Linked DNA regions of Homo sapiens. The protein of the gene in region 2 interacts with the protein of the main gene of each other region in a pairwise test. Each region holds a gene or a part of one and is shown on either strand. Other genes may lie near its edges.

Region 1 (7,181 bases), on a different chromosome or scaffold from region 2:
GTTAAGAGAAACAATAAGCGACATTGTTGAAATTTCCTTTAGGTGTATGAGAAAATATTTCTCCAAATAATATAACTAGGATTATAAGGTTACTGGAACACTTCTGATTTCTCCTTTCACTGAATTTTAATTTTTAATGGAAATAGATGATTAGCCACTAGTGAATATTCCAACCAACAGAGGGGAAGCAGAACACTCTACACTCTTTAGGGAAACAAACTATTCTCTCCAACTAGGTTATCAGAGATTTAAAGTTCAAGTTTAAATTTTACAATTTGAATTTTACACAATGTTTTCTCCTTTAAAAATGACGTATTTAATTGGTTTGGACCAAACAAAACATATTTTTAAATTTAAAGAAATGTTTATGCTATCATAATGAAAGCTATCACACAACCTATATTACTCACAAATTACTAAATATGTAGAATTGGGAAAATAAGTTGGGAAGAACTAATTCACTATAACAATTCCAAAGTCTCAGGAAAAAAAAGAATCAATCACATAAACCCATCTCTAACACACTTATTCAAACATCTGCATAAGACAACCTCTAAAAATAAGTTGCTTCAGTTCGTGAAAATTAAGCAAGCACAACTCCTCTATTATCTTTAGTAAAAATATGTTTATCCCTTGAAATAAAAGTTGTAGAGACAATCACAGGAATATATGAAGGCCTTTTAAACATTTATAATGAAGCCCTTACCACCTCCATCCCCAAAAAAACAAACCCTCTGCTTTCTTAAGATGTGAAGTATTCCTCCCGTCTGCATTCCCTCCCTGGCATGCCCCCCACTCGCACACCCCCCCACCCGCAGTAGGCCTGAGGCCCCGTAGCAAACAGTGTCTAACAGGAGCAGGCAGCACAAAGACAGGAATGGGAGATTAGTGGGAGGGAGGGAGGCCGGGATTGGGGCTCAGCAGGAGCTTCAGGCTTTTTAAAATTCAAACTGCTCCCTGACCAATACAAATCACGGACACGCTACTGACTACTACACGGATTTATAGCATTAAAAACATGCCTAGTACGTGACAGCTATATTAACTTCATTCTTTTAAACATTTATCCGTACGTTTGCAGGAAATGTGAAACAATTTATTGTAATCAGGACGCTAAACTCAAAAATAACCTCCACAAAATAACTTATTCTACAGTGACAATAATTTAATGACACAAAAAATATGAACCAATGTAACAAACACTAGTAAAACAAGGGATTTCGCTGAGCAGTGCTGCTTCATTTTAACCAATGAAAGTTTTCCTTCAGCGAATATGAAACAAAATATCAAAACGTGTAACCCAGGTACACTTTTCTAGCAATTTGCCTGACTGAGGAATTTTAAATTGGTGTTTCCCCCTTATACCAACCTACATTATGAACGCCTCCATAAACAAGCTCGAAACACTTAACTTACTCATGAACTAGAACTTGTCAAGTTAGAACTGATATTTTTCTCCAGCATTTACAGATACATTTAACCTATTAAAATGACACCTCTCTCATTACACAGTCAAACATCATGGCACAAACAGCCAATGACAATCCTGGGACCTCAAGAAGAACTGCCCTGACATAAAAGGATGGCACCTTCTACAATTTTTTAACCTCCCAAGGATTTTAAGTATAACTTAATTTCTTTTTTGGAAAAAGAAAAGAAAAGTGGTTTTACCCGTATCTCAGCACAATTCTCAGAACACTTAAAATTCTTTGTATGCTCCTACACGTTTTGGTCAGGAAGTACCTGAGTGTTTTACGTATAGTCGCTTAAAACTGCCCTTACATAACGCATACAAATAGAAAGTGGCAGAGTAAACCTGTCAAGTACTTTATACTTGTCTTTGAATAAAAAGTCCATGTGCAACAACACACTGTCAAAACAACAAGATAAAAGCTCTTGGGGAGGGGGAGATGTGCAGTGTCTACCACAGTATGTTTTTCTGTATTAAATATTCATGTGGACGATTTAATTCTTTAAAAAAGAAAATGAGTCTTTATGAACTTTCCAACGTCCAAACAAGTTTTAGAAAGAGAAAGAATTACCACTGGATCCGCGTCTGAGTATTTACGTTTGTCTCACTAACTGAAACTACTTCCTCCCTTCATGGGGTCACAGGGGGAAGAAGGGAGGTTGTTTGTTTCACTGGGACGTTCCCCACTCCCGGACCGGGAAAGTTGTAAATATGGGGACGATCAGGGCACATTTGCTGTTAGTTGTATTGTTTCCGCCTCCCCACTAGCTACGGCTCCACTCCCGGGCGAGGCCTGTCACCGACCAGCAGTCGCTCCGCTCAGCCCGGAGCTCTCCTAATCCCCGAGCTCAAGTAGATTCCGCTGGCCCGCGGCCTGCACTCTCCGCCGGGCCTACGCCTCCCCGGCCGCCCAGCAGGAGCCCAGTCCCCGCCACCGGAGCCGGCCGGGAGAGGGTACAAAACCACCGCTACCCAAGGCGGCTGCCACCAGAGAGGAGCGAACTCTAGACTCGCCTGTGGAAGAGACCTGGGGCCGCTAAGGAAACGGCGGGGAGGGGAGCGAGGAGGAGAGACGCTGAGGACCTGGCGCCGGCGCCGCCGCCGCCGCCGCCGAAATAAAGAGCAGGAATTTACCTGGGCGAATCGGCGTCTGAATCCAAGGGGAGGCCGAGGCCGCTGTGGCGAGAGACTATAATCCGGGCCGGGAGGGGGGGTGGCTACGGCTCCTCTTCCGTCTCCTCAGTGCGGGGAACATGTAGAGCCGGGGGGAGACCAGCCGAGAAGACAAATCGTTGCTTCTTCTTCCTCCTCCTCCTCCTTCTCCCACATAGAAACACTCACAAACACCCGACCACGGGCCCGAGCTACCGGGGGGGCATCGCCGCGGGCCCGGGAACCAATTCTCCTGTCGGCGGGGGCGTCCCTCCCTGCGGCTTGGTGGTGTCGGGTGAGTCGGTACCGACGGAGGGAGGGGGGGGAGGGCGGGGGGAAGGAGCCCTGTGTGTGTCTCTCTCTCGTTCCGTCTCTCCCTCTCAGAACAAAATGCCGACCGGAAGTGCAGCTGCAGGAATGACTCCCTCCGCCGGCGCCAAACACTAACAACCACCCCCTCTTCCCCACTCCACTTCCGCCACCGCCGCAGCCGCCGCTGCCGCCACTTGGGCTCGCGTCCTCGGCCGCGCCGCGCGGCACCCGGGCCCAGCAGCCGGGAGGCGGCAGCTCTCCTCTACGCCCGTCCCCTCAGGGCGGCTGTGGATGTTGCCAGTATTGTCGATGCTTCAGAGCGACGTTTGCCCTGCGACACAGGCGGGCCGGCTCTCCTCTGTCTTTATTTTCCTGGAGGCCGACAGGAGCGGGGCCCGAGTTCGGTGGTGGTCGTGAGCGTGGGGGGCACTCAGGCCCGGACGGGCTCTCAGGTCGCCGACGGCGGCGGCTGGAGGCCGCGCTGGCTGTCCCAGGTCGTCGTTAGCTTTAGGGAGCCGATCTCCGGGCGGCCCCACAGAGGACGCCCGCGATTCGATGGCGATGATGCCCGTTTTAAATGGTGTCCCTGCAGCCGGGTGGATGGATGGATCGTACACCTTGCCTTTTGAGAGCCGGGACCTTACGCCCGACTGCGTGTTATTTCTGCGAATAAGAACGCAACCTTTGGAGGTGAAGACGACTGTCGGCTGGATTGAATTGGAATCGTGTTTGTGATGATGCGTTTATTTCTGGAAATACGCGGTCTCCGCTGCTTTTGCTTTTTGTCGGCAGAGGTTTGGGTTCTTCTCTAACGGTCAGGATAAAGGCCTGTAGGCGACGCTGCGCGAGCGAGAAGCTCGCCCGCGGCTGCCCGGGCGCCCCCCTCTAGGTGTGGGTGGAGCCGAGCGCGCGGGGAGAACCGCCGGCCCCGACTCAGCCACCGGTGACTGCGGGCGACCCGCGGGCCTGCGGCCAGCTGATTTCAAACATCGTTTTCCTCTTTAGGTTCGGAAAACTGAGGCGCTGGACAAGGCTGGAATACAATATGTGATTATACGTACAGTACTATGGTTGTTGTAGTTTTTAAATTGTAAAACAAGAAGTAACCATTGTTCCACCGTTCTCTATTAAGTTTGTGTAAATTAAAAAGGGGCTATTTTCGGTAAAAAGTGCAGTAGGTAAGCGGAATTTTACTCAACCGGGACGAAATTCGTGTTATATGAATTGTATTGTGTATTTGTGTGTGTACCAGTGCGCTAAAAGTAAGTAGGAAAACTTGCTTAGATTATTCCTTTTGCCTCAGGCCACTCAGGGGGCCAAGATCCTGTCACTCCTTTTCTCTAGGCCCTGCGAATGGCTTCCCGTCTTGAGGGGAGTGAGCCAAAGCCTTGACTGCGGCAGAAGTCCCCGCGCGCCGTTGAGGGTGGGGGCGGGCCTGCCCTGGCATCCTTGCGAGTAGGACTCTTCCCTGAGCGTCGTCCACAGGGCTTGCTCCTTCACCTTCAGGATTTTGCTCGTGTCACTCGGTGCTTCCGCGGCTACTTTTAAACTGAAAGTTCCCTAGCCCCCTTCTCATTTTATCCTTTGGACAGTCTACATATCCATACTTGTTTATCTTCTTATCTCTCCTTCCCCAGTGCAATGTAAGCTCTAAGAGGACAAGAGGTTGTGTTTTTCTGCACTGGTGTTACGGCCCCCGCCTAGAATGCCACACAGTAGATGCGTAGTATGTGGTTAAGGAATGAATGCGATTATAAGGGCCTTGATGCTCCCCCATTTCTGTCTTTAATATGTACTTATATGCTACAGAGAGCTTTATAAAAGATTTAAAACACGTTTATTACAGAATTCTATAAAAATATATTGCTTCTAAACATTGGAAAGCCCTCCACAACACCAGAAACCCACAAATGAGGGATAAAATTTGTTTTTAGGCTTCTGTAAATGAGCATGCCCGAGGACAGTGCATCAAATGATCATATCCATACTGGGCCGATTATGTTTGCTCTTCTGAGTCTCAAACTGCATTCTTCATCTTGTCGTCCTCTGTCTTTCAAAATACATTAAAAGTGAGAATTTGGTTGGCTCAGAGCAAATCCAGCACTATTGGAAAAGTTCATTCAGCAAGTATTTATTGGGCACAAATGGGTACCAGGCACGCTAATTCAAAAGGTGTGTGTTTCTGAGGCTAGAAGGCCTTACATAAAGGACCACATGTGGCTACTTTGGTTGCTACTCAATTATGCTGTCAAGCAAAGCAAATGCTAGTGAAATTTATTTTTAGTTTTCTTCTGAAGAAAAGGTTCAATGAAAGCTGAGGTCAGGCTTGGTGTGGATATTTTAATTCACCATTTAGTTTGCTGTTTGCTTACACTTAGGTTAGCATTAGATATACTTAATCATGATTTTTGAGTACTATAAAACGTGAGAAATCTTATTTCCTAGTGGCTGGAAAAACAGGCTTTTTAAATTAAAATAAGTAAATATATCAGTAAGCTAGAAGCTATGCAATAAGGCTTTGGCTATGGTATTACAAATTTTCATATTTCATGTATTGAATTTTTGGACAAGAAAAGACAGCCTTGATAGGTATTTTATAACCATTAATACAATTAATCAAACATTGTTTAGTAAATCCAATCGTCTATTCATTATTATTTTTCCCATTAATCTTCAGAACAGCTTTAAGTTAATACAGATGACTCAGAATGTGTTTTTCACTCAGTTTCAAAATACCATTATTTCAATTCGCTAATAGAAGCACAATTATCTTCTTGTCTGCTTTCTTAAATGTTACTGGTAAACTAGTAATTTTGCATGTCCAGGTAACTGCAGCTGCTACAGTCAATCTGCTTTGGAAAGTCTTGGCATTATTGTGTCATTTAATTTAAAATTTTTAAGTTTTTTTAGTTTCTTCCCTTATTGAGGACTTATTAGGCGCTAATTAGCTTTATGCTAGACATCTCATGCATGGCAGTGAATGAAAACAACACTGCCTTTGAGGGTTTTAACTTGTATATAGTTTATACCATTTTTTTTCCAGGTTATAGAATCAAAGAAATTGTTTCAATTCATATCACAGTATTTCTCTATTAAATCAAATGGTATTTTGCTTGCATAAATTTAAGTATCCAAGTTGAGATCTTACATAGAATCTGTTAATCTAATATTAGTGTTTTCTTCATTTCATTGTCTTGGGTTTTTTTTTCTTAATAATTATTTTTCCCAATACCATCCATTTGTTTTGCTCTTACATTTTTAAGTCTTTTATGTTCCAAATCAGGTGACTTACATCCTCCACTTGTCCATTGAGGATAGCCCAGTAAACCTTTATTCTGACTTTAAATTGCCTCCTTGCTTCAAGAACTGAGTTGCATGACTCAGTTTTCTTTGCTAGAAATATCCCTGGATAGTCTCGTATGTATTCTTGATCAATGAATTGCAGAAGATTTGATTAAAAATTTTAAATGGATTTCAGGGATAAACTATTTGTATCAAATGTCATCACCAGGAATTTCTACAACTGAAAAATTTGAATTGTTATTTTTATTGAAGAATATTTATCTTTAAGATAAATGCAACTTGCTATAAAATGATAGAAATGAAAAATTTTAGAAAATCATTTTCTACTCACTATTTTATGCCTGCCAGTTATCCTTTGTTAGTGATAAAATTGTCTTTTATGGGAACGAATTTGTTAAAGGTAGAAAAAAAACTGGTAGTGTATGTATGTTTTATAGATTAGACACTACCAAAATTATTTAACATTTAGAATAATTAACTTGCTTTCAGGATGACAGATGACTTAAGAAACTGATGAAGGGTTAATTAAGGATATTGATTTTTAGGGCAGAACTACAAAATTATCAAATCACTTAACACTGTAAATATGTTCCTGTTTCAGGTTTTCAAAGTAAATACCTTAATCAAATTTGGAAATAGTATTTATGGATTTTATTCAACATAGATTATCTATTTTGTTAAAATTATAGAAATGAACAGTTCTTTTCCCATGGATGCCTTTTTTCATCTTGGCCTATTCTGATCCTTTAAGAACAAGCTTTGTCCTTTCATTAATACTTCTCACCTATAATTACGAATTTTCTCTAAACTTGTAGATTTTATTATCCATGCCATCTATTTATAATCCTATGACACTCCTATATTGTTTATGGTTTTTTTGTTTTTTTTTGTTTTTTTTTTTAGACGAAGTCTTGCTCTGTCACCCAGGCTGGAGTGCAGTGGT
Region 2 (7,089 bases):
CCCTTTTAACTCAGCACCCCAGTTGTGATGCAAGCAGTTCCAGAAGCATACTTTGAGTAACAATTAAAGAATAAACGAAACACAGAACAGAGGGTGACGTTGCAAGCAAAATTTCTGCTAGAGAGAGGACACTAGCCGGCCTTGGCTCTGTCTCCTGAGTGTCACCTTCTCCTCAGGAATTCTCACGGATTCTTGCTGACCCCACCATGTTGCTCTCTCTGGCCTACCTGAGACAGGTGGGAACTCTGAAAAAAGGCCTTTACTGAATACTAAAAGGAAAAAAAACAGAAAATACGAAAAAACAGAAGATCCTTCATGCCCCCAATACAGGCTTTTCTGAACCCACTATACCTACTGTACCTACATAGCCTTTTCTCCTCCTCAGAGAAGAATCCAGTCATCCTTAACACTCTGGGGTGCATATAGGGTTGCTGAGCTGCTCACAGACTACTAGTGAATCCCTATTACAAATATTGACTGCTGGGCCGAGTGCAGTGGCTCACGATCTTAGCACTTTGGGAGGCTGAGGTGAGCAAATGGCTTGAGCTCAGGAGTTTGTGACCAGCCTGGGCAACATGGCAAAATTCCGTCTCTACTAAAAATACAAAAATCAGCCGGGCGCAGTGGCTTATGCCTGTAATCCCAGCACTTTGGGAGGCCGAGGCGAGGGGATCACAAGGTCAGGAGATTGAGACCATCCTGGCCAAATACAAAAAATTAGCTAGGTATGGTGGCACACGCCTGTAGTCCCAGCTACTATGGAGGCTGAGGCAGGGGAATCACTTGAACCCGGGAGACAGAGGTTGCAGTGAGCCGAGATCGCACCATTGCACTCCAGCCTAGTGACAGAGCAAGATTCAATCTCAAAAAAAAAAAAAAAAAAAAAAAAACAGCCGATGTGGTAGCATGCACCTGCAGTCCCGCTACTTGGGAGGTTCAGGTGGGAGGAAGGCTTGAGCCCAGGAGGCAGAGGTTGCAAAGAGCCAAGATCACACCATTGTACTCCATCCTGGGCGGCAGACCCAGACCCTGTCAAAAAAAAAAAAAAGAAGAAAGAAATATTGAATATTGACTGCTTTTATAATGTTGTGGTAAGAAAAGTAGAAAAAAGCTTCAAAAGTCATAAAATCCCACACCTCCTCTGACTATTACAGTATGAAATGCAAGGCTCTTCTCAAAGTGGTCTCAATTTTACTTCTCCAGTTCTAGGTAGGGAAACGAACATCTATTGAGAAGCTACAGTGTGTCAGCCCTGTGGTGAGTCCTCTCTACACTTCATCTGATGTAAGAGCACCCTCATTCCAATCCAAAGATCATGCTCTTTCTCCCACATGATGCTGTTCTCTGGCTTCCTCACCCATACTTCATTCCCTCTTCCTCTGATTCAATCATCTTTGTCTCTGAATACTCTACATTCTCCTAAAACTCTCTGCCTACGCAAGTTCTTTTTTTTTTTTTTTTTTTTTTTGGAGATGGAGTCTTGCTCTGTCGCCCAGGCTGGAGTGCAGTGCTGTGATCTGGGCTCACTGCAACCTCCGCCTCCCAGGTTCAAGCGATTCTCGTGACTTAGCCTCCGAAGTATTATAGCTGGGACTATAAGCACGCACCACCACGCCCAGCTAATTTTTGTAGTATTAGTAGAGACGAGGTCTTGCCATGTTGGTCAGGCTGGTCCCAAACTCCTGACCTCAAGTGATCCGCCCGCCTCGGCCTCACAAAGTGCTGGGATTACAGGTGTGAGCCACCGCGACAGGCCTACCTATGCAACTTCTATTCGCCTTTCAAACCCCAAAGTCTTCTCTTTGATGACCCCCTTCCCAATTCATCCAGGTACAGCTGGCATATCCCATCTCTTGCCCACGGCATCCACACACATCTTTGCTATCAATGCAATGAAACTTGTTTCCCCTAGACTAGGAGTTTCTCAGGACAGTGGCCATCACTTATTCACTTCTCATTCTCAGATTCAGCACAGAGCTTTGCACACCCCAGGTACTCAATAAATATCAGGAGATAATCACATTCCGGGAAGCCTTCCTAAACTACCCCATCCCTGAATCTACTCTTGCTCCTTAGTTCTATGGCTGGCACAGCTGACACCATAAAACTTCAACCCTATTTTCATGTTGCCATGGTCGTTTTATGTGTTCTAGTCTCGTTTACCCAATTGGACTATAAGAAGCTTCTGAGCAGAAACCATATCACACCTGCCCGTGTCCCTACACTGTGCCGAGCACAAATATTCTAAACATACACCTGCTGTTAGACTGGTGGGTAAGTCCAAGGAGGCAAGCTAGCTGGCGATACAGAATGATCTGAAACCTAGGCAAAACTCCCTGACGCTCTCTGACTGTCCTCCTGTCTTCTTTAATTTCTCTTTCTGTGTCTCTTGTTTCTACTCTGAGGAGATAGGGGCATGATCTTCACTCTACCCTCTTAACACTTAAGAGGGCATATACTGTAACGCAAGACAATGAATGAACTGTGGTATTCAAGAAAAAAAGGGTCCTAAACGCCTAAGAACTCATAATTTGGCCAAAAAGATAAGACTGATACGTGAAGACAACGACCGAAACAAAGTACCCGATGAGGGAGACCAGGACAGAGAGACACCTCCGCGGTCAGGCGAAAAGGAAGTCTCCCCTAAGCAGTGGGGCCCGCACCACGCCTCGAAGGACAGGTAGAATTTGGACAGAAGGAAGGAGACCGTCCCGTTGGGCAAAACCTCTCCACTCGCAGTCCCGCAGGCTTCCCGGAATCCTTCACGCTAAGGCGTGGCGGCGACCGAGTCTCAGCCGCAGCGAAGCCCCTAGACTAGAAAGCAGGGAGGTTCCAGTCGGGGTGAGGGGACCGGACCAGGGCAGACCAGCGTGGCCAAGCGGCAAGAATACTCGCCGAGGTGGCTCGGGAAGAGCTTGGCCTCCTGCAGCCCCTGCAGAGCACATACCCCAGCTTACCGTCTGTCGGCTCCAGGTCTCTTCAGCTCTTCTCCCACCTCAGACCATCTCCGGAGAGGCGCTTGAGGGACGGTCAAGGAAAGCCAATCGTCGTTCTCGGATCCGACTGACAGCCAATGGTAGCTGTGTCTGGCGGAACCCGTGCGCACCAAAACACGGAAGGGGCGGGAACAGTGGGTGGGGCTAGGCGTCCCGGGCGGACAGAGGGGCGACAGGATACGTGCAAAAGGTAGCACGTGACCGCGCCTCGCTGCTCAGGGCAACGCAAAGGCGGGGAGCCTATGGGCCTGAGTTCCCCTAACTGCGCAGGCTCGGCCTCCGGGACCCAACGGGCATGCGCAGGGCTCGCGCCTGGTGCGCAGTGGGGTCTCCCTCACGTGGTTCTTCGCTTTAGTTGGCTGGTTGCGTGGGCCTCGCGGAGAAAAAGGCGTGGGATGCTGCCCAGCGCTGTCGGCCCCGCTCGGCTCAGATTGAAGGTTCTACCCTTTCCTTCAGCCTCTTAGTCTTATTATGTTTTAAATGTTGGTATTATATGTTTCTCTTTCCCCCCAAAACTCGGCTTCCCTTCATCCACTCGTTCAGGTCAGAAAGCTGGCAGTCATCACTGATTCCTCTCACTTCTCACATCCAATCCATTGCCAAGTTCTGTGGATTCTACCTCCTTTTAAAACAGGATATTTCAAATTTATCCCCTTTTGTTTATCTTCACCGCCTCCCCCACCTCCCCTGTCCAGTGATGACCTCCAGGCAGGATTTATACATTAGTCTAATGGGTCCCGCTGCGTGCACACTTGCTTCCTTCCAAAGCATTCTCCACTTTGCAAAAAGCAGACCTGATCAAGTTACCATCTGCTTCAGACAATTCAAAGGCATTCTATTGCTTTCAGGGCAAAGCTCCAAAACCATACTGAGGTTTTCTAGACCCTTCAGCATCTGGGCTCTCCCTGTCTACTTTTTTTTAGTCCTTCTCGACCATATTTCTTGCTCTCCAGTCGCAAATTTCTTTCACCTTTTCCACCACACCAAGCCACCTTTTACCTCTCAAGCCTTGAACTTGTTTTCTTTACCTGGAATAATCCCTTTCTCCTCCTCCCACATTTATTTGACTGACTCCTACTAATTTTTATGGTCTCAGTGTAGATGCTTCTTTTTCCAAAAAGTCTTCCTGATAGTCCTTTCTTGTATTTAACAATACAGCTCAGTCACATTGTATTTGTCTGTTTACTCTCAGTCTGCATTCTTCACTAGACTAGTTCTTCACCTTTATAACTCCATCAGTGGGCCGGGTGTCGTGGCTCACGCCTGTGATCCCAGCACTTTGGGAGGCCGAGGCGAGTGGATCACATGAGGTCAGGAGCTCAAGACCAGCCTGGCCAACATGGGGAAACCCCGTCTCTACTAAAAATACAAAAACTAGCTGGGCATCGTGGCGGGCGCCTATAATCTCAGCTACTCGGGAGGCTGAGGCAGGAGAATCGCTTGAACCCAGGAGGCACAGGTTGCAGTGAGCTGAGATGGCACCACTGCACACCAGCCTGGGCAACAGAGCAAGACTCTGTCTCAAAACAAAACAAAAAACAAAATAAAACAAAAAACCCATCACTCACTTAGCCCAGTGGCTGAAACTCAGTAAGGGTTCAAGACATACTTGTTAAATAATATACCTTAATAAAGTTGGTTAAGACTGATATTTTATTGCATTGTAGTTTTCTGTATCTTCTAATCTAAAAATAAACCTATATAATTTGTACAATCAGAAAACACATTAAATGTTCAATATATATAAAATAAAATTTAAAATGCCATTAAGATAGTAAAGTCATACTTGTGCATAAATTTTGGTTTTAACAACAGTGAGTTATAACTTGGTCCCTATTTTAAAATAGGGTTTTGCAGGGCGCGGTGGCTCATGCCTGTAATCCCAGCACTTTGGGAGGCCGAGGCGGGCGGATCATGAGGTCAGGAATTCGAAACCAGCCTGGCCAACATGGCGAAACCCCATCTCTACAAAAAATACAAAAATTAGCCAGGTGTGGTGGTGGGTGCCTGTAGTGCCAGCTACTCAGGAGGCTGAGGCAGGAAAATCGCTTGAACCTGAGAGGCAGAGGTTGCAGTGAGCCAAGATCACTCCACTGCACTCCAGCCCGGGCAACAGAGAGAGACTCTGTCTCAAAAAAAAAAAAAAAGCGTTTTAAAAAATGTAATTCAAAAGTAACAAAATATATCTTACCAACTTTATTCATTCAAAAATGCATATAGTAGTACTTCATGAAATGCCATCCTCATTTTAATTCAGATTTACACCACTGAAAATAGCTTTTAGCTTTATTTAGCAATTTTATGAAGAAAAAGTTCATTCACAGAGCTGTGTAAACTCAAACATAGGTTACAGAGCAAAAATTTCAGGATTGCTCTGGGATCCATATATATGTTTCCAAAATTTAAAGCAGTGTCATTCTGTCTAGCATAGTTTACTTCTATCTCAATCTGCTTCTCTTGAAAACAAGCCACAATTTTGGCTGGGTAATTCAGACATATCCTGAGATTTGTTCTTTAAAAGCTGCCACAAAAACTGAAAGCATAATTCATACTCATTAAAAGCTGTGGATCCCTTCTGAAAGTGTGAAATGGATTAAGTTGATGAAAATATGTTTCGTATTTTTTTCATTCATTTAAAAATTCCCTATTTTTGAAACGTGATCAGGCTCTTCTTCACTAAAATATGTGATTCCATGGAACTCTGGGCAGCTCAGTACTGGAAGCTCAATACAGATTCCAGTTACCATCTACTCATTCCCCAGGTCCTGTAGAACTCTGAATACCTGTTCTCCCATCAACAAAAGTTTCTTGTGCAATCACAAGTTCACTGTGTTTGGTTGTCGTGTCATACTGGTAGAAAAACTGTTCCTCTGTGAACCACTAAGAGTTACATTTCTTAGACTGGGGAAACAGCTTGAAAAATCTCTTTGAATTTTCATGACTTAGAATTGAACATTTCACTACATAAAAATCAACCAAATCGATGTGTCCATCAATGGAGGATTGGATAAAGAAAACGTAGTTAATGTAGTGAGTGATAAAGAAAATGCAGTTTATAAACTCCAACTTGACTTTAATAAATTAAATTCCAAGCTGTCACACAGCAATGGACATCATTATCATCGCCCAACACACACACACACAGTGGAATACTACTCAGCCATAAAAAAGAATGAAATCATGTGTTTTCCAGCAACATGGGTGGAACTGGAGGCCATTATCCTCGGTGAAATAACTCAGAAACAAAGTCAAATATGGCATATTCTCATTTATAAGTGGGAGCTAAATAATGGGTATACATGGACATATAGAGTGGAATAAAAGACATCGGAGACTATGAAAGGTGAGAAGGTGGGAGGAGGGTGAGGGTTGAAAAACTACCTATTGGGTATGATGTTCACTATTTGGGCGATGCGCACACTAAAAAAAGCCCAGACTTCACCTCTATGCATGCAATATATGCATGTAAGAAACCTGCACTTGTCCCCCCAAATATATAAAACTAAATTATCTAATTGAAAAAAAAAATCTATACCCTCCATTCTTCCCGGATATCTCATATTTGGTGAGTAGTGTGGACAGGAGCATGGGGAATAGTAACAATTTCCACATGCTATCTACCCAAAGGCATGTGCCCTAAACACCCTGAGATATAGGTAGTCATAGAATGTCAAGGCTGGAAGTGACCTGAATGTTTATCCAGGTCACCCTTATTTTAGATATGAGGAAACTGAGGTCCCCAAAGGAGAAGTTGCCTGCTCAAGATCACTTGGTTTGTCTGTGGCAGACTCAGTTTTCTTGCTTCCTGGTCCTGCATTCTGCCCAATATCCTGTAGCAGCTTACCTGGTTCAAGTCCTGTATAAGATCTCAAGCACGGGAACCAGGGACACAGTTTGCTAGGATCTATCAATCCCTGAAATTTGCCCACATTTCAGAATGAGAGAGCTTTTATTATGTTGAAACACTTCTAAGACTTCCCCCTCCCAGTTTCTTCTGAGGCAACAGTTAACACTCAGCACTTCATTTACTTCTCATCCACAACCAAATGATAGCCATGATGATTGAAGTTCCCATTTTACAGATGAGAAAACT
Region 3 (7,032 bases), about 11 Mb from region 2:
TAGTCCTGTCCATAAACAAACTTTTGCCTAATACACTACTGTCAGGTTGATCCCCTCATTTTCATGCAACCTACTACGGTCTCTCTGTCTATGCTGGTGCTGCTTCTCTTTATAACTTACAGATTTTATAAGTTATAAAAACTTCCTTGCTTTAACTCCAAATCCTACCTTCATTCTTTAAGCTTTAGCTCAAGCCCCACATTCTCTATTAATTCTGACCTCTCCTTTATGTAATTTGTAACAGCACGTAAAACAGACCCATTAGGTTTAATACTAATTGTTGATATTTAATGAAATTTTATTGTATGTCTATAATGTAACAAAAAGGGAAAAGAGGGAAGCTTGGGAACCAACACATAAGGAAATGTAAATAAATGTGCCATGAGCACTATCTCTGAGGAACATACAATAAAAAATTATCAATATGATAGGCATATCAATCACTAACTACATATAACACAGCACGCAATAAATGCCACAAGAGCCCCTATGAAAAAAGGATTTTTTTTTTTTTTTTTTTTTTTGGAGACAGAGTCTTACTCTGTCACCCAGGCTGAAGTGCAGTGGTGCGATCTTGGCTCACTGCAACCTCTGCCTCCCAGCTTTAGATTCTTCTGTCTCAGCCTCCCAAGCAGCTGGGATTACAGGTGCCCACCACCATGCCAATTTTTGTATTTTTAGTAGATACGGGGTTTCACCATGTTGGCCAGGCTGGTCTTGAACTCCTGACCTCGGGTGATCTGCCCGCCTCGGCCTCCCAAAGTGCTGGGATTACAGTCATGAGCCACTGAGCCCAGCCATAAACAAAGGATTTTAAAGACAGAGATCAATTAGAAAGGATTTTATAAAGGAAGAAATTCAAGTTTTTTTTTTTTTTTGAGACAGAGTCTCGCTCTTGTTGCCCAGGCTGAAGTGCAATGGCATGATCTTGGCTCACTGAAACCTCTGTCTCCTGGGTTCACGAGATTCTCCTGCCTCAGCCTCCCAAGTAGCTGTAATTACAGGCACCTGCCACCATGCCTGGCTCATTTTTTTGTATTTTTAGTAGAAATGAGGTTTCACCATGTTCTCGAGGCTGGTCTCAAACTCCTGACCTCAGGTGATCGATCGGCCCACCTCGGCCTCCCAAAGTGCTGGGATTACAGGCGTGAGCCACCATAACCGGCTGAAATTCAAGTTTTTCTTGAAAATTTCTCCAAAAAGATGATGAATTCCCTGAAGACCATGACTATAAGAGCTATTTTTAAAAACTCCCCCACAACATTGGGTTTTATACAACTATGTGATGAATTAGTCTGTCTTTTCTGTTTATTGTAACTTACTAGCACATAGATTGAGAAGTATTTGTGAAAAGAAAAAAGAAAAACCACTAAAGCCCATAGCTTACTAGCAGATTAAGAAAAATAAAAAAGGTTTGAATTAGCTAGCATAAAGAAGCAGCGTAATCACAAATTTCAGAATCTTTTCTCATACCATCTACTCATTAGTTATTACTTCGCAGTCAATAACATCACATACAAAAGAAATTAGATCCCAACCCAGAGAAACAAATTTCAATTATGTTATTAAAGTTACCTTGTGAAAAGTTTGGTGACACAGCTTGGTTGACAGCAAATACACTGTTTGACCTTGGTGGTGTCTGTAACTGAGGTGGTAGAGGTTGAGCAGTCATAGGTGCAGAATTTCCAGGCAACACCACTACATTAGACTGACTTACAGATGTTCCTAACGCTGTTGGATCAGTCACACAGGTAGCTATCAGAATGTTATTTGAATTGCCAAAAGCTGTGCTTGTGGCTGGCATCAACTGTATATATCCTCCATCCTTGGAAACACATGGTGTAACATTAGCTGAAAAAGCAATGCCATCTTCATTCTGAGTATTGTTTACTGCAGAGTCTTCAGATTTGAATGTTAAAAGACTCTGTTCCATTGAGGCTGAATCCCCTACTTCGGCATATACAACAGCACCTACAGTTTCTTCTGAAGATAGGCATTTAACTAGTTCTGCATTTTTAGTAGGTGATTTAGTAGGAGAAGACAAGATTATAGTTGGCAGGTTTTCTCCATTAATACTAGAAACAGCACTGGTAAGTTCAGTATCTGAGGAAACAAATGGATCATCACTAATGATAACTTTGAGAGAGACGATATTTGATGCATCTATCTCTGCTGAGTTGTTGCTAGAAGGTTTATCATCAGTATTTTGGGACTCAGGGTGAGAATCTCCCACTGAAGAACACACAGATTCTGGAGGAAGAGAGTGACTGTTTTCTACAGGAGTGCCTTCTGGAGGCGTCAGTGCAACTTTCTCACAGTTAGCATTTCCACCTAAAGAGAGAAAAATAGTATTCTCTTCTTTTACAGAAGATGAAGGCTCCTGTGAATTCTCAGACTTGGATGCCTGAGCTTCATTTTCTGTATGATTTAACTCAACAGATGCTGAATCATTAGATGGTTGTTTAGTAGAAGACAGCGAATCTCCAAGATGAATTTCTACTTGTCCAGATACATTTAAATGTGAACTTTCAACAGACACAGGTAGTATTTCACTTTGAAGACAAGAATTATCTTGGCAATTTGATAGCTGTGACATAACTGGTTCTAACACATTAATTTCTATTTTACTCTTGTGAACTTCACTAGAATCTGATGACTTGGAACCATGAAAATTAATTTTAAGTTTTACTGTATCATTAGAATTTTCACAAAATTGACTTTTTTTAGATGGCTTTCCAGTTAATGAAGTATCTTGGGATAAAAGTTGAGAACTCTTCCCAGAGAGAATTAAGTTTTCATTGTTAGCTTCACAACCAAGTGAAACAAATGAAGTTATTGGTATATCAGGCTGATCAGGCTGTAACTGAGATTCACTCGGTACATTTGAAGACAAAGAGTTCTTTTCAATCCCTATAGCCATTTCAGTTTCAGTGGACATCTGATTGGTGTATAATTCAGCACAATGTGGATTACATTCAGCATTAGAATTCCCTCTTTGGTTAAAGTCATTCAAATTAGGCACGGACTCAAAGGTAATGTCAATGTCACACTTCTGTTCAGTGGGTACAGCTGTTTTAAAGGCCTTTTTCTGTATGCTGGTACTTATTTGGGAAAAATTTTCCTGGTCTTCTTGTCTAAGCACATCATGGTTGTTGCTATTCTTCAAAGCATTTAATGGGTCATCATTCTGATAGGATGTACAAAAAGCGGGCTGACCAGACTGACCATCTGCAAAGTATCAGGCAGGTAGACAGATATGGTAAATATGTTCAGCTTCTGAGGTAGTCATTTTTGCCATAAAACTTATTTTGCCAAGAAAATAACTCATCTTTGCATACCAGTAAGTGGAAGTCTGATACGCTGTGTTTCCCATTTACTGAGTATCAAAAAATTTACAGGTACTTTCTAGTTACTGATGACTTTTTACACAAGTGTCAATTTGTTTTCCAAGCTTGGAAGACAGATGATACAAAGAAGGAAAAAGTAAAGAGGTTTAATATTTCAATAGGTAAAAAACATACTGGCTCCAAAAATGAAGTTTATTTTGAAACACTAACTTTTCAACTTCTAACATTTCTTCTGACTTTAATTTATCTACTGTCTCGGCCTCCCAAAGTGCTGGGATCACAGGCATGAGCCACCACACCCAACTTATCTGACATATTCTTAAAGGTGAGATGGGGCCAAGTACATTTTGCATGATTGACACTTGATCTCATTGTGTACTGTTTAACATTAAACACATATTTACTGAAGACCAACCATACTTGGTTACTGGGATACAAAGATGAATGATCCAATCTCTAATCTTGGAGAGGTTAGTCAAGGAACCAACTATAGAACAGAAAGTCATAAGAAAGCATGGTAAAAACTGTAACAGCATAGGAACAAAAGGTACCATGAGAAAAAATTATAAAGGAGGCACTGTATGAGAAGATCTTAAAAAAAAAAAAAAAAAAAGAGTATGATATGAGTAAGGAAAGAGTATTTCCTTTTTTTTTTTTTTTTGAGACAGAGTCTTGCTCTGTCGCCCAGGCTGGAGTGCAGCGGTGCGATTCTCAGCTCACTGCAGCCTCTGCCTCCCGGGTTCATGTGATTCTCCTGCCTCAGCCTCTTGAGTATCTGGGATCACAGGTGCGCGCCAGCCACCACACCTGGCTAGCTTTTGTATTTTTAGTAGAGGCGCGGTTTCACCGTGTTGGCTAGGCTGGTCCTGAACTCCTGACCTCAAGTAATCTGCCCTCCCTGGCCTCCCAAATTGCTGGGATTACAGGCATAAGCCACTGTGCCTGGCCTGGAAAAAGTGTTTCAGAAAACAACAATACAGCATTCACAATTTAGGACAGAAAACATTAACTTGAATCAGTATGAAAAATATTTTTTAAAAACCAGAACATTTATGTCAACTAGCATATACAGCAGTCTCCCATTATCTGTAGTTTTGCTTTCTGTGGTTTCAGTTACCTACAGTCAACCAGCCTAAAAATAGGTGAGTACAGTACAATAAGATATTTTGAGGAAGACTACATTCACATAACTTTTATTACAGTATATTGTTATAACTGTCCCATTTTATTATTAGCTATTGTTAATTTCTTACTGTGCCTAACTTTAAATTAAACTTTACCATAGGTATGCCTGAAAAGGAAAAAACAGTAAATACTATATAGGCTTTGGTACCACCCAATTTCAGGCACCCACTGGGGGGCTTGGAATATATCCCCCATAGATAAGGGGGGACTACTCTAATTCTGTTAAATGTGACACTTGCTGCTGAGTACAGAGCACATCTGAATCCTTATTGTGGGGAAAACAGTAGAAATTGTATAGAGGCCACATAAATTCAGGATAAGTAGTTCCTCAGTGAAGTAGGATGACTTTCTCAGAAAACGGAATTTCAAGTTTCACTTTGTACAGGGAAGAACTTAAGTGAAACACAATCTTCTAGACATAATATATACTGCAAAAAACACAACCCACTATAATTCAGCCTAAGAAGAAATGGAGAATTGGACTTGATTGTTGGCAGAGGAATTAAAGGAGGCACACAGTCTGAGATTCTCCAAGGACAGGATGTGAATGAACACTGGAAGCCATCAGATTTTTTACTGGTGGGAGCAGGTGATAACATTTAAAAACAGGTGCACAAAAAACATGTGCCTTAATAAAAATAAATGTTACAGACTTTTGAGCAACTGAACAACATTAATACTAAATTGTACATGTCAAGAATTGAATTATAAAGGAATGAGGTTGAGTGTGGTGGCTCACACCTGTAATGCTACCTCTGCTTCCCAAAGTGCTGGGAGCATCGTTTGAGGCTGCATGCAGTGAGCTATGATTGTGCCACTGCACTCCAGCCTGGATGACAAGAGGGAGACCTTGTCTCAAAAAACAAACACACACCAACAAAAAAAGCTTATAGTAAAAGAATGAATACTGTAAATTTTCTTTTAATCAAACTACCAAAGATTTATAATTGTTTTTAACAGAGAGAAAAATACAAAAATGACCTATAACAATCTGAACAACTTCTACTTCCAAATTAATATTTTCTGCCTTTGAATTTTGAGACTAATATTAAGATTTGGATTGATGATATTAACAAAATTAAATTCTTACCAGATTCTTCTGTTTCAAAAGAACCTTTAACTGCTAGATTAGTTTCATCTGCTAAGACTATACTGGGATTGGATTCCATAGGTTGACTGGAAATACTTTGTGATATATTTTTATTATTCTTTGTTTTGCCTGTTAAAAAGGGAATATGGAAATAATTAAATGACCAAAACAAAAAATAAACATCAATGAATACAGCTTGTTGGTGATTACGCAAATGTTAAACTTCGATTTAGGGTTTTATGGATGTTTAAAAAATGTTGCTTTTAATATCATTTACAAGTACAAAGATTTTCCCACTAGACAGGTGTTTCTTAAACTTTAGCCCAGTAATTTGCATTTTCTAACGAGTTCTCAGATAATGCTGAGATTGTTGGTTTGGGGGACTATACTTTGAGAACTACTGCACTAAATCATAAGATTGAGGACAATGGCCAATTTTTTGTATTCCCTTTGTACGATTCAATTGTGTTTAACACATTTGTATAGTGGTAGACATCAACACATTCCCTGATGACTGGCAAAAATGCCACAAAAATAAAAAACAAAACTACTCTCCACTTTAACAGCTAAAGTTTCTCAGCTAAAAACAAAACAACAAACACTCCTTTAACATATCCATATAATGTTTGATGAAATGAAAACAAGAACTTTTTTAGATACTCTGGGGAATGTTGATTCACTCTGGTTAAGTTACCAAAGAAATTGTAGAAGCCTTTTTTTTCTGTCTTGAAATAAATAGTCTCCTTACCATAGTCAAAGAGATCAAAGAGTGCCTGAAATGCTGGGTCTGATTCTGTCTGTTCCAATATGTCCTGTATAGCTTCTTCAGACATGTGAATTTCACTCTGCAAGAAAGGAGTGGCGTGAAGGCATGATTCTAACTGAATTTATATATATTTACATATTATATATATATAAGACAGGGTCTCACTCTTTTGCTCAGGCTGGAGTGTAGTGGTACAGTGGTAGAGTCACTGTAGCTCACTATAACCTGAAATTCCTGGGCTCAACTGATGCTCCTGCCTCAGCCTCTTGAGTAGCTGGGACTACAAGTGCACCACTATGCCCAGCTTATTTTATTATTATTATTATTTTTGATAGAGATGGGGTTGCTACCTTGCCCAGGGTAGTCCAGAACTCTTGGGCTCAAGTGATCTTCTTGCCTCAGCCTCCCAGAGCACTGGGATTATAGATGTGGGCCACTGTACTCAGCGTGAATAATATGATTTAATACCAGCAAAATAATTAGCAGACACTCGACTATTTCTGACTTTTTATGTAGTAGCATTCCCCCACTCCAAGAAAATTTCCAATGACATGCTCATTTAAAACAAATTAAAACAAAACTAGATAGGTGTTTCCTAATCCTACTTCTTAGAGGTAAGAACTTTGGTGAATATATTCCTAAAC

What was found. Proteins that work in one complex are often made in the same cells at the same time.
Region 1: the proteins of HINFP (region 2) and NIPBL interact in a two-hybrid assay, tested with the Homo sapiens proteins (one study listed by BioGRID).
Region 3: the proteins of HINFP (region 2) and NPAT interact in a two-hybrid assay, tested with the Homo sapiens proteins (2 studies listed by BioGRID).

The regions. Positions count from the first base shown.
Region 1 is NC_000005.10:36,872,603-36,879,783, reverse strand, and holds the start of NIPBL (nipped-B-like protein), read right to left. Parts: upstream 3,016-7,181; 5' UTR 2,606-3,015; intron 1-2,605. UniProt on the Homo sapiens protein: Plays an important role in the loading of the cohesin complex on to DNA. Forms a heterodimeric complex (also known as cohesin loading complex) with MAU2/SCC4 which mediates the loading of the cohesin complex onto chromatin.
Region 2 is NC_000011.10:119,117,508-119,124,596, reverse strand, and holds the start of HINFP (histone H4 transcription factor), read right to left. Parts: upstream 3,018-7,089; 5' UTR 2,958-3,017; exon of another isoform or gene 2,948-2,957; intron 2,815-2,947; exon of another isoform or gene 2,584-2,814; intron 1,030-2,583; exon of another isoform or gene 913-1,029; intron 1-912. UniProt on the Homo sapiens protein: Transcriptional repressor that binds to the consensus sequence 5'-CGGACGTT-3' and to the RB1 promoter. Transcriptional activator that promotes histone H4 gene transcription at the G1/S phase transition in conjunction with NPAT.
Region 3 is NC_000011.10:108,170,624-108,177,655, forward strand, and holds part of NPAT (protein NPAT), read right to left. Parts: intron 6,468-7,032; coding exon 6,371-6,467; intron 5,752-6,370; coding exon 5,623-5,751; intron 3,229-5,622; coding exon 1,576-3,228; intron 1-1,575. UniProt on the Homo sapiens protein: Required for progression through the G1 and S phases of the cell cycle and for S phase entry. Activates transcription of the histone H2A, histone H2B, histone H3 and histone H4 genes in conjunction with MIZF.